Linked DNA regions of Homo sapiens: region 2 is linked to region 1. The links come from fine-mapping of genetic effects on gene expression. A gene starts in region 1. The other region holds a variant in brackets. All regions are shown on one strand. Distances are from middle to middle.

Region 1 (5,373 bases):
ACAGCATACATCATCTATCTTTTTTTTTTTTTTGAGACAGGGTCTTACTCTGTTGCCCAGGCTGGAGTGCAGTGGCATGATCTTGACTCACTGCAACCTCCTCCGCCTCTCACCTCAGCCTCCTGAGTAGCTGGGACTACAGCACCAACACGCCCAGCTAATTTTCGTAATGTTTTTGTAGAGATGGAGTTTCGCCATGTTGCCCAGGCTGGTCTTGAACTCCTGAGTTCACCCAGGAGTGATTCGCCCACCTCGGCCTCCCAAAGTGCTGGGATTACAGGTGTGAGCCACCATGCCTGGCCCCATACATCTTTCTTTATGTTACCTCTTCTGCTTCATACTAATAAAACTCTTTGCTCAAAGCCTATATAACTCAGACTTTTCACGAAATTCAACTGTCCTACCCTTTAACCCATATGAAATAGGCTTTCCTGTATTTTCAACTCACTGGTAGGATTTTTTCTGTCTTCCCCCTTTATGTAGATGATCCAAAGTCAGAGAGAGGGGTTGGAAGCATGAGTAGCCCGTGGCTTCCTGAATAGCCTGGGGAAAGCAACTTCTGATGGACAGACATTGCGAGAGCGAATGCCAGCCTCTTTTCTTGCTGATCTCCTCTCTATATGGTTCTTACCACTTAAAGACGAGGTTGAGCCAGTCTCCAATCACAGCTACCCAAAGGAGTTTAATGCCCACAGCTTCCTGAAGATGGAACCAGATGGGGAAGAGGACGTAGAAGGCATTCCTGAGGTCTGCGATCACGGACACCAAGATGAACCAGTCCTGGGAGTCTTGGTAATTCACCTGGAGGTAATGTGTTGACTGGATCCCAAAGTCATGGAGAACATTCATTCCTTCCTCCATCCTCATTTCCTTGGCACCTCAGGAAGATGTCAGCAGAGCCCTTGCAGTTATTCCAGGCTTGGTGGTGATTGCTCTGCTATGAGTCTGTGCCTTGCCCCTGTTTTATATGCCCTGTATCCAGTATTCAGGTCAACCCAGCCCTGATCTTTGGACTCAAAAACCACGTTTGTCTAAAATGTATTGATCAAAGGTGCATCACCAGTAGGTTGATGCAAACATGTTCAGGGTGATTTACGTAAAATAGAAAAACAGGCACACAAAAACAGCCTGATCGGCCATGTACTCAGCAGGGCCAATGATTAACTTTGGCATGCTTCTTGGCAGTGCAAGGGTCTGCCCTCCTGGTCCCCGAAACCAGGCCAGAGACACAGGACAGAGTCTACATCCACGATGATTCTTGCAAAGATGTCAGATTTTCTATGCCTGCAACTGCACTTATTTGGGGACAAAGAAAAATCTTGGTGCTCTAGCTATTCAAGTTTTAAGTTCTTAATTTTAAAATTAGTAAAGTTCTGGCTGGTTGTGGTGGCTCACACCTGTAATCCCAGCAATTTGGGAGGCTGAGGTGGGAGGATCCCTTGAAGCCAGGAGTTGGAGACCAGCCTGGGCAACAAAGCAAGACCCTCGTTTCTACACAAAAATTTAAAAAATTGTTTTGGTGTGTGTGATGGTGTACCCTTGTAGTCCCAGCTATTCAGGAGGCTGAGGCAGGAGGATTGCTTGAGCCCAGGAGTTGGAGTCTGCAGTGAGCTATTGTCCCACCGCTGCACTACAGCCTGGGCAATCGAGCAAGACCCCAGTCTCTAAAACAAAACAAAACAAAACAAAACAAAACAAAAGAAAAACAACAAATAAAATATAGTAACTTCTATTGTATTGGGGACTATCATCTTGCTGGTCTTTCCTTAACTGTATTAGAGTCTAGGGTCTGCCTCTGGTTTGGGAGATCAACCCCCTTCCTGGTATTGGCCTCATGTCTCTTAGGGCCAGAAAGTAATCGTTTTTGAATGCAGTGATTAATTCATTTAATGACCTTAAAGTTACAGCCCTTGGTGTTGTTTTCTTTTTTAAATTTTCTCTCTCTTTTTTTTGAAACAGGGTCTCACTCTGTCTCCCAGGCTGGAGTGCAGTGGCATAATCACGGCTCACTGCAGCCTCAACCTCCTGGGCTAATGTGATCCTCCCACCTCAGCCTCCTGAGTAGCTGGGACCACAGGCACACGCCACCATGCCTGGCTAATTTTTCTATCTTTTGTAGAGATGGGGTTTTTCCATGTTGCCCAGGCTGGTCTTGAATTCCTGAGCTCAAGAGATCTGCCAGTCTTGGCTTCCCAAAGCTCTGGGATTACAGGTGTGAACCACCATGCCTGGCCAAGTGTTTTAACTCATACGTTTAAGCAAAATAATGAATGTATAGTCTTACTGTGCAACAATATGATGAATGTATGGTTCCAAATAAGAATACCAGCAAAATGGTAACTGGAGACTTAAAGAGTTTGAAACTTTCAGTTATTTTTGAAAAAGGGCTTCTATATCTTGAGCTTTCTTATACATATGTGTGTAGATATACAAAAGAAAGCTCAAGATACACTGTGTGTGTGTATATGTGTGTGTGTGTGTGTGTGTATACTATATATCAGCCTACAAATAGTAGAGAGACCAAAACCCTAACACTTGGGTCACGGAGGACTGTGAAAGGAACCAGGGAATGAATCAGGTAACGAACTCATGCATTTTAAAAAATAGGGCTATTTAATCATGCTTCATATCACTATTATTTATTATTTATTTATTTATTTTTGTAGAAACGGGGTCTCACTATGCGGCCCAGGCTGGTCTCAAATTCCTGGCTTCAAGTGATCCTCCCGCCTCAACCTAGCAAAGCATTGGGATTACAGGCATGAGCCACTGCCTCCAAATTCATGCATTTTTTGAGGATAAGAGCCAGGGGGAATAAAATGTTTAAAAACTTGCCTGAATTTCCCATCATTAAGTCCATATTGACATGTAAGGGGTAGCTGGGGACAGAAAAAAGAAACTCAGAGCTAATGAATCTGTGGCAAAAGTTGACAGCATTCCATGCTGGAAATGATTAAAACATCCTCCAGGAGGTATGACCTGGAGTCTCCTCCCCACCCCACCAAGGGCTCGCACCCAGCCCATGCTGACTCCAGTTGTCCTTGACTGCATGGTTTCTGCTGGTCCAAGCAAACTTCTCCTGCCACGCCTAACCTTGGAGAGCAGGTAATGTGTTGGTGACTGTGGGTGGGTGTAAAGTAAGCCCATGCGTGGCAGGCAGTGCTGGGGCGTGGGGTATATGTGATCTGCACTGTCAGGGCTGCTGGGCCATAGGTAGGGAGCCTCCCTCTACCCAGATAAGCCTCTGTTGTGGAGTAACTATTGCAGTGACCTCTGGGATGAGAGTTTCTATGGTCAGAGGTGAGTCAAGGTGAGTCTAAAAACATATACAAAGGCCACTGTCTGGGTCATGCCAGGGCAGCTAGCAGCCAGGGTCTCTGAGTTGGGAGGGGTTCTATTATGTGGTCAGCATATGGGGAGGGCCCTGTTTTCTGAGACGCCTCAGGAAGAATACCCCTATGGATAAGGAGTTGATAAGTGATGGAGTTGACATCCCACTCTGGGCATCCAGGGACAGTGGGAGTCTTCCTGGCGGTGGGCCACCAGGCAGGGGGACCCTCTGGATCAGAGCAACCTCATAGTCATGAGACGATGAGCTGGTCCTCATCTTTCCACCTGCCAGCCCCTTTCTGCTTCCTCCAGCACGTTTTTATCCGTGGGAAAACAGGTGAGGCCCCAGCTTGTTAGAAAGCTGACTGCATCGAGACACCGTGGATTCTCAAAGGTCTTGTGGATATATGAGGCGAGTGGCTAGAAGTTTTGCTGAGAATCCACTCATTTATCTGTTTATTTGAGACGGGGTCTCACTCTGTTACCCAGGCTGGAGTGCGGTGGCACCATCACAGCTCACTGCAGCCTCAGTCTCCTGGGCTTAAGGGATCGTTTTGCATCAGTCTCTGGGTAGCTGGGCCTACAGGCGCACACCACCAAACCCAGCTAACTTTTTATTTTTTGTGGAGATGGGGGTCTCTCTACATTGCCCAGACTGGTCTCAAACTCCCGGCATCAGGTGGTCCTCCTGCCTTGGCCTCCCAAAATGCTGGGATTACAGGTATGAGCAACAGTGCCCTGCAGAATCCACTAATTTAAAGAACTATCTCCAGAGAGGGGTTCCCGCCATCTCCTTCTAACTCTTTGTTATTTTCCCTTTTCAAGAAGTGCTCCGGTTTAATTCAACCAACATTTCCTGAGCAAAGCACCATGCCTGGCTCTCTGAGGAATTAAAAGTTAAAAGCCAGGCTGGGCATGGTGGCTCACGCCTGTAATCCCAGCACTTTGGGAGGCTGAGGAGGGTGGATCACCTGAGGTCAGGAGTTTAAGACCAGCCTGGCCAATATAGCAAAACCCCATCTCTACTAAAAATATAAAAATTAGCCGGGTATGATGAGGGGCACCTGTAGTCTCAGCTACTCGGGAGGCTGAAGCAGGAGAATCACTTAAACCCGGGAGGTGGAGGTTGCAGTGAGTGGAGATCCTGACACTGCACTCCAGCCTCAGTGACAGAGCGAGACTGTCTCAAAAAAAAAAAAAAAAAAAAAAGTTAAATCCCAGGTGTCCTCCAGGACCTTGGTGGTCTAGTGGGACAGGGTGACCTGACATTTACAAAACTATGTAAACTGGAGGATCCTTATGTGAGTGACTACCTACAAGTTCGCTGAAAAGTCACTGACATAAGGCAGATTAATTAATATGAGAAAAAGATTACAAATGTATTTAACATGTATACATGGGAGGCTTAAGAATGAAGATCCAACTTCCCAGTGAGGTATGGAAGCTCATCCACCATCTTGAGGTTGCAGAAAGAATGGGTGGCTTGGATCCTGTTAAAAACAGGTTATGGGAAGGAGGAGAAGAGGAATTCTGTCGAAGGGCAGAGGGAGAATGATTGGATCGAGGAACAGAAATTAACTTGTAAATAGTTCTCCCTGGATTTTAAATGGTCCTCAGAGACAGTCATTGTCTTGAAAAAGGGTCTGTTGAGACTTTTTTATGGTTACATTTTTGGTCTTCTTTTCTGTGATGGATAATGGGATAAAGGAAGGAGAAGAACAATTGTTCTTTTGTGTCAGTCCTTTTTTTTTTTTTTTTTTGAGACGGAGTATCACTCTTGTTGCCCAGGCTGGAGTGCAATGCGATGATCTTGGCTCACTGCAACCTCTGCCTCCTGAGATCCACCGATTCCTGTGCCTCAGCCCCCCAAGTAGCTGGGATTACAGGCATGTGCCACCAGGCCCGATTAATTTTTGTATTTTTAGTAGAGATGGGGTTTTGCCATGTTGGGCCAGGCTGGTCTCGAACTCCTGACCTCAGGTGATCCACCCGCCTCGGCCTCCCAAAGTGCTGAGATTACAAGCATGAGCCACCATGCCCGGC
Region 2 (5,373 bases), 44 kb after region 1:
TTAGCTGCATACTATTGTATTGTAAGGCTGTATCAGAATTGATTTAACCAGTCCTTTAGAGAAAAAAGTTTCTGTTGTTTCTCATCTCTTGCTATTTCTTTGTCCCCATCCCCAATCCAGACCTCAGGAGGGACAGCAGTGATGGGAATGGAGCCCAAGCCTGGACCAGGCCAGGCCCTGCCCCACCCAGGCCAGGCCCCTCCCCACTAGGCCAGACCCCCACCTCACCCAGGGCCCAGCTCATTCGCATGCCTGAATGTGATTGGACAGCCCCTCCTGGCTGGGTGGCTGGAGTTGTAGGGGCTTTGGCTTCTCATCTTTGATGCCCACCCTTTGTTTCCACTCCAGCCTCCCAAACAGGCTGTTGCAGAATACAGAGCCCTGGTACAAAATGGCCATTCTTCATTATCATTGCACCCCCAAATCACTTGAAATGCTAACTTGAGCTGCTGCTGTCACGATGACCATCCTCCTCTATAGAGAGCATGAGGCAGGCAGACACAAATGCACAGAAGCAGCTGTCCTGAAACACACCCAGCCCCAGGACAGGGGTAGGAGCAACTCCTACTCCCAATAAGCAACAGACACAAGGGAACGACACACAGGGATTGGCCACTCTGATTAGGGGTCCCGTGACCTTGAGACTTCCATAGGGCTGGAGAGGAGACGGAACTTGACTGAAAACTGAGGGCTGGGGGAGTACCAGGGGCTGGGACATAGGGATATCCCCTCAGGATTCGGGAGAAATTGCAGGATAGAAGAGAAGGCAGGAACAGGAGGAGGAGGAGGAAGTAGGTGAGAGAGAGGAAGACGAGAAGGAAAGGACCTGGATGAGAGGGAATGTGAGCAGAAGCATCCTTTCCAGCTCAGCTATGGACTTGCAGGACTGGCAACCCTACTCTGGGGTCTCCAGGGAATAGCCCCCTTTTAGAGTCCTTGGAGGTGGCCTAAAAAGATTCGGGAAAGCCAGACAGCAACAAAGGGAACCATCTAGGGAAGCCCTCGGCCACGGCTCCAGGCTGGGCCATGCCTGGCCTCTGTGGATGAGAACTCAGTACAGCTGGCATCAACAAGGTTCAGTGTCCCCTGTGTCAGGCATCACAGGGTCAGGAGGCTCCTGGCTCAGAGGCGGATGCGAGGGAGGGTAGTGGAAGAAAGAGAGTCCTGGCACAGGAAAGAGGGAACCAGGCTGCCGGCCCAGTGCCCAGCTGCTCCCCATCCCTCACACCCTGGCCCTGGAGCCCTTGGCCACATGCCCCATCCCAGGACCGCCTAGTTGTGAGAGAAGCCCCCGTGGGAGAAGGCAGGGAGGTCGGGGGCACAGGCAGCAGCCTGGGGCAGGCAAGCTAGGGGGTTGACCTCGCAGGCCCCAGCATCCTGGTCCCCTCGGAAGTAGATGGAGTCGGCAGAGTAGAAGGAGGGGTCTTCGTCAAAGAAGTTATAGGGTCGGAGGAAGAAGCCCACGCCGTTCCCCACAGTCACTGTGTTAGGAATGTCCTCTGCATGTGGGATATGCAGAAAACCAGCTGTCACCCAGGCCACCAAATCCTAGCAGGGGAGAAGAAAGAGGATCACGAGGTCTGGCTTTGCTGAGGACATGCCCTGGTAGGGATTCAGCTCACCAGCCCAAGGATCATGAGTCTTTAAACATTTTTTCCTGCTGGGTAGGAGTCAAAGCATAAGTAGTCCATTTCATATTAGGAACACCTGCTTCCCTGTCCCTGGCTTGCAGCCTCCATCTCTGACATTTCCCATCATATCGCCCATTGCCTATCTACCCCCAGAGGGTGACACCCACAGGCTACTTCAGCTCCTCTTCCCCTAACTCTCCAAGAGTTCCCCACAACTGAGGAAAGAAGGGTGGAGGAAAAAGAACCAGCGCTTGGGAAGCAGAACCAGGCCAACATTGTGAAATTCATCAAGTCAGGAATGGGAGAAGCTTCAGATACAGGAGATGTCATTTTCCCTGGTAACTTCCATCCCTCCTGAGTCCTGGAGCCTGGAAAGGACTCAGTCCATGAAACTGGAACTAAGAGGGCTCTAAGATCTCAAGGACAGGCCCAGGGCCTCACTCAGTGTCTGCATATGGACACCCAGCTCAGGAAGGTTCCCTCAAAGGATAATGATCAGATATACTGAAGTGCAGAAGGCAGGAATCAGCACCACCCCTGAGAAGTGCAGGTGGTTTTCAGGGACCCTCCCAAGAGAAAGCAAGGCTCATCCTGTACCCTCTACCCCGGCCAGCTGACCTTTCCAGCAATGGTCTCATTGTTGATGAAGTCACTGAAATCCACAGTGGGGGCCCAAGGGTCATTCTGATTGAAAACGCTGCTGCTACTGGGCTCCTCCTCCTTCCGCTGGGTCACAGCCAGCTGGTACCTAGGGAGGCACTGGTCAGGCCTCCATGGCCATTGACCCCATCCTGCTGCCTGATTATGATGAAAGGGAACTGAGTGCTCAGAGCTCAGCTTCCCCAATTGCAGTCACACAACTGACTCGGCGCTACAGAATCCCCGACGTCACCCTAAGGGGGGTCAAGTCCTCCTGTTTATCCCCAGCCATTTAACAGTACAACCCCTCTCCCATCCAAAACAGAAGAGAGTTCTCACTCCTGGGCTTTAGCCTCCAAGGGGAAAATGTGCCCATCATGGTTTCTTTGGATAACTAGAAAAACCTTTGGCCAGGCATTGTGGCTCATGCCTGTAATCACAGCACTTTGGGAGACCAAGGAGGGTGGATCATGAGGTCAGGAGTTCGAGACCAGCCTGGCCAACATGGTGAAACCCTATCTCTACTAAAAATACAAAAATTAGCCATGTGTGGTGGCGTGCACCTGTAATCCCAGCTACTGGGGAGGCTGAGGCAGGAGAATCGCTTGAAACTGGGAGGCGGAGGATGCAGTGAGATTGCTCCACTGCACTCCGGCCTGGGCAACAGAGCAAAACTCCATCTCAAAAAAAAAAAAAAAAAAGGAAAAGAAAAGCCTTCCTGAGAGAGCTCTCCCCTCACCTACAGTGTGAGCTGAGTGTCCGCCAACACTCCTTTCCCACTCTCACTGCCCCCCTCCTCTCTGACTGCC[C/T]GCCACTCACCTCTCCCAGCTGAAGCCTCTCGCCATGGAGCTGTTTTGGGGCAGCGGCTCTCCAGCAAAGCTGAGCATCTGGATGCGGTAGCCCCGGGGGTGACCCCACTTGTTGCTGTGGTTGCTGGCCAGGTACAGGTAGCGAGGGGTGGCGCTTCCCACGAGGAAGGCGGCCTGCTCCTCCATCTCCAGCAGCTTCCGGGTCACCTGCAGCCTCTGCAGCTGGTGCTCAGGGCTCCAGGGCACAGCCATGGGGACAAAGACCATATCCTCGGCCCAGACCCAGTTCTCCAGTCCTGCTCAGGGTGGGATAGGGGAGGGCCTGTCAGGCAACTGCCCTGGCCCCTCTGGACTCTGCCCCCATCTGGCTTCAGAGTGGGGGCCAAAGAGCAGCCCAGAACTGAGTGTGCCCCTCCTTCTCTTCCCTCTCCCCAGGATACCTCCAATCCTTTAGCCAAAGCTGTTGACCTGTAAATTAAAATACTTCATCAGGGAGTTCATTCCATTTCACTCATTCATTCTTTCAACATTCATTAGCAGAGAGGACTGTACTCGTCCCTGGGGATAGAGATGAATGATCATCCTTACCCTCTTGCTTTCCACGCAGACAGACAAACCACTGACTGGCCTGTCCTGTGAGAGGAGCATGGCCTAGGCAACTTCCGGATCACAGGAATACAGTTGCAGGCAGGAAAAGGGGGCCCTTCCGGGCAACTTTTCAGCCTGGCCTTAAAGGACATTACCAGAAAAGATGATATGGAAGGACATTCTAAGCAGAGACAAAGCATAAGCAAACAGGAGGATGCCTGACTGTAACATGTGAAGTGCGTGTCCAGGGACATGGAGAATTTGGGTGTAGCTGTGCAGAGCACAGCAAGGCAGGGTGGAGCTGCACCGTGAAGGAAAGAGTTTTGAGGGGGTTCTGCAGACAGGATCCCACAGGTGATGACGAAAGTGAGAGCTGAGTAAAGGGCAGGCTGGTGTGGATGGGAGGCCCTCTGGGTGCAGAGTGGCTCTTGGCTCTGAGAGCAACAAGAGCAAAAACAGCAGAGAGAGGGCTGGCACCTGCACGGCATGACAGTCTGACCTGCCGAGATACTGCAGGTGCAAAACAGAAACAAAACAAAATAAAACAAAACCAAAAAAAAACACCTGGTGACTGACTCAATGTGGGGAAAGACAGTGAAAAGACAAAGATGAAGACTCCAAGCCATCATGTAGCCTTGGCTCTCTCTGTGACCAGACTCCAGGATCTATCCAGAATGCTCCACGGGATCCATGTGACCCCTCACACTTAGGTGAATTGTGCCCAGAGAAAGAAGGAAAATCAGGGAGGAGGGTCCATCTCCAAAGGAAATGTACAACCTGGAATGACTGACCTGCACATGCCAGGGACGTGGTAGAATGCAAAGAGATCCTCCAAAACACCACCACCACAGGCCAGACACAGAACTGAGCTGACAAACAGAAGGCTGCTCCCAGCAGCAGAGCCCATATAAGTACAAGGGAGAGAAGAGGGCAATGGGGACACTGTTAGCCCAAATCCTGCCTCCTCCCTGAGCTCGGCCATTTCCCAAGATCTTTGGATGAGGTCACGTAGAGGAAGGCTGCAGCTTTGCACCCAGCCAGTGAGCTAAGATCCAAATAAAACTCAGCAGCCAACTCTCTCCCATCCAGCAAAAGGGGAAGTACAAAAATCCACGTCTTCCTTTCTGGGATAATCTACATAAAACCCAAAGCTAATGGAAACAACTTTTCAGCCCTTCTTCCAGAAGCCTTCTCCCCACCAAAATGTCTTACCTGCTACATCCAGATCCACCTTGAAGTGGGCGCTGTGGGTGTGGACCGTGCCCAGGGTGTGCTCTGACACTTGGTTCCCGTACTTCCCAGTAGCACCAAAGAGGAATGCCGAGCTGATGTAGCCCGTGGCATAGAATCGTATTTCTATGGCCCCACTGGGGTGGAAGACCGTATCCCACACATAGTCATAGTTGAGCAAGGTGGACATAGATCTGACGACCAGCACCGTTTCCGCAAGACCCCCAAAGTAGTGCGAGTAGAGATCTGAGTGGTGTCGCCGCAGGGGGAGGCCCTGGTTCTGTTCAAACACACAAAAGGCATCACGTATTGTCTTGGGGGCCTGGGACTCCAAAAGGAAGTGCCAGTCCACGTAGGTGGCCAAGTAGGGGCAGTCCACCCCACGGGTCAGGGGCGTGGTGTACTTGCCCATGCCAAAGCCTCCATCCACATAGCGGGTCGTCATTGCTGCTGGGGAATTTCCACCATAGATGGCC

Direction of the effects. Positions count from the first base shown, and alleles are read on the strand shown. Sizes are in standard deviations (SD) of each study's normalised expression.
With allele C in place of T in region 2, the expression in gastroesophageal junction of the gene that starts at base 3,004 in region 1 is lower (small effect, 0.38 SD a copy in GTEx).

Evidence for each region. PIP is the estimated chance that this variant, and not a neighbour inherited with it, causes the effect. A credible set is the group of variants that fine-mapping cannot tell apart.
Region 2: its variant is the best candidate, but not a certain one, in a credible set for the expression of LINC00671 in gastroesophageal junction (GTEx, PIP 0.69).

The regions. Positions count from the first base shown.
Region 1 is chr17:42,896,365-42,901,737 of GRCh38, reverse strand. It overlaps LINC00671 (long intergenic non-protein coding RNA 671), which reads left to right and starts at 3,004. Exons shown (of 6, transcript NR_027254.1): 1 at 3,004-3,105. It overlaps G6PC1 (glucose-6-phosphatase catalytic subunit 1), which reads right to left and starts at 939. Exons shown (of 5, transcript NM_000151.4): 1 at 632-939. The coding sequence starts at 861.
Region 2 is chr17:42,852,450-42,857,822 of GRCh38, reverse strand. It overlaps AOC3 (amine oxidase copper containing 3), which reads right to left. Exons shown (of 4, transcript NM_003734.4): 1 at 4,880-5,373; 2 at 3,090-3,375; 3 at 2,250-2,379; 4 at 1-1,548. The coding sequence ends at 1,273. Among named protein-coding and RNA genes, the nearest start is that of AOC3, 3.9 kb to the right of the region's middle. The variant C/T (reference allele first, on the strand shown) is at 3,080.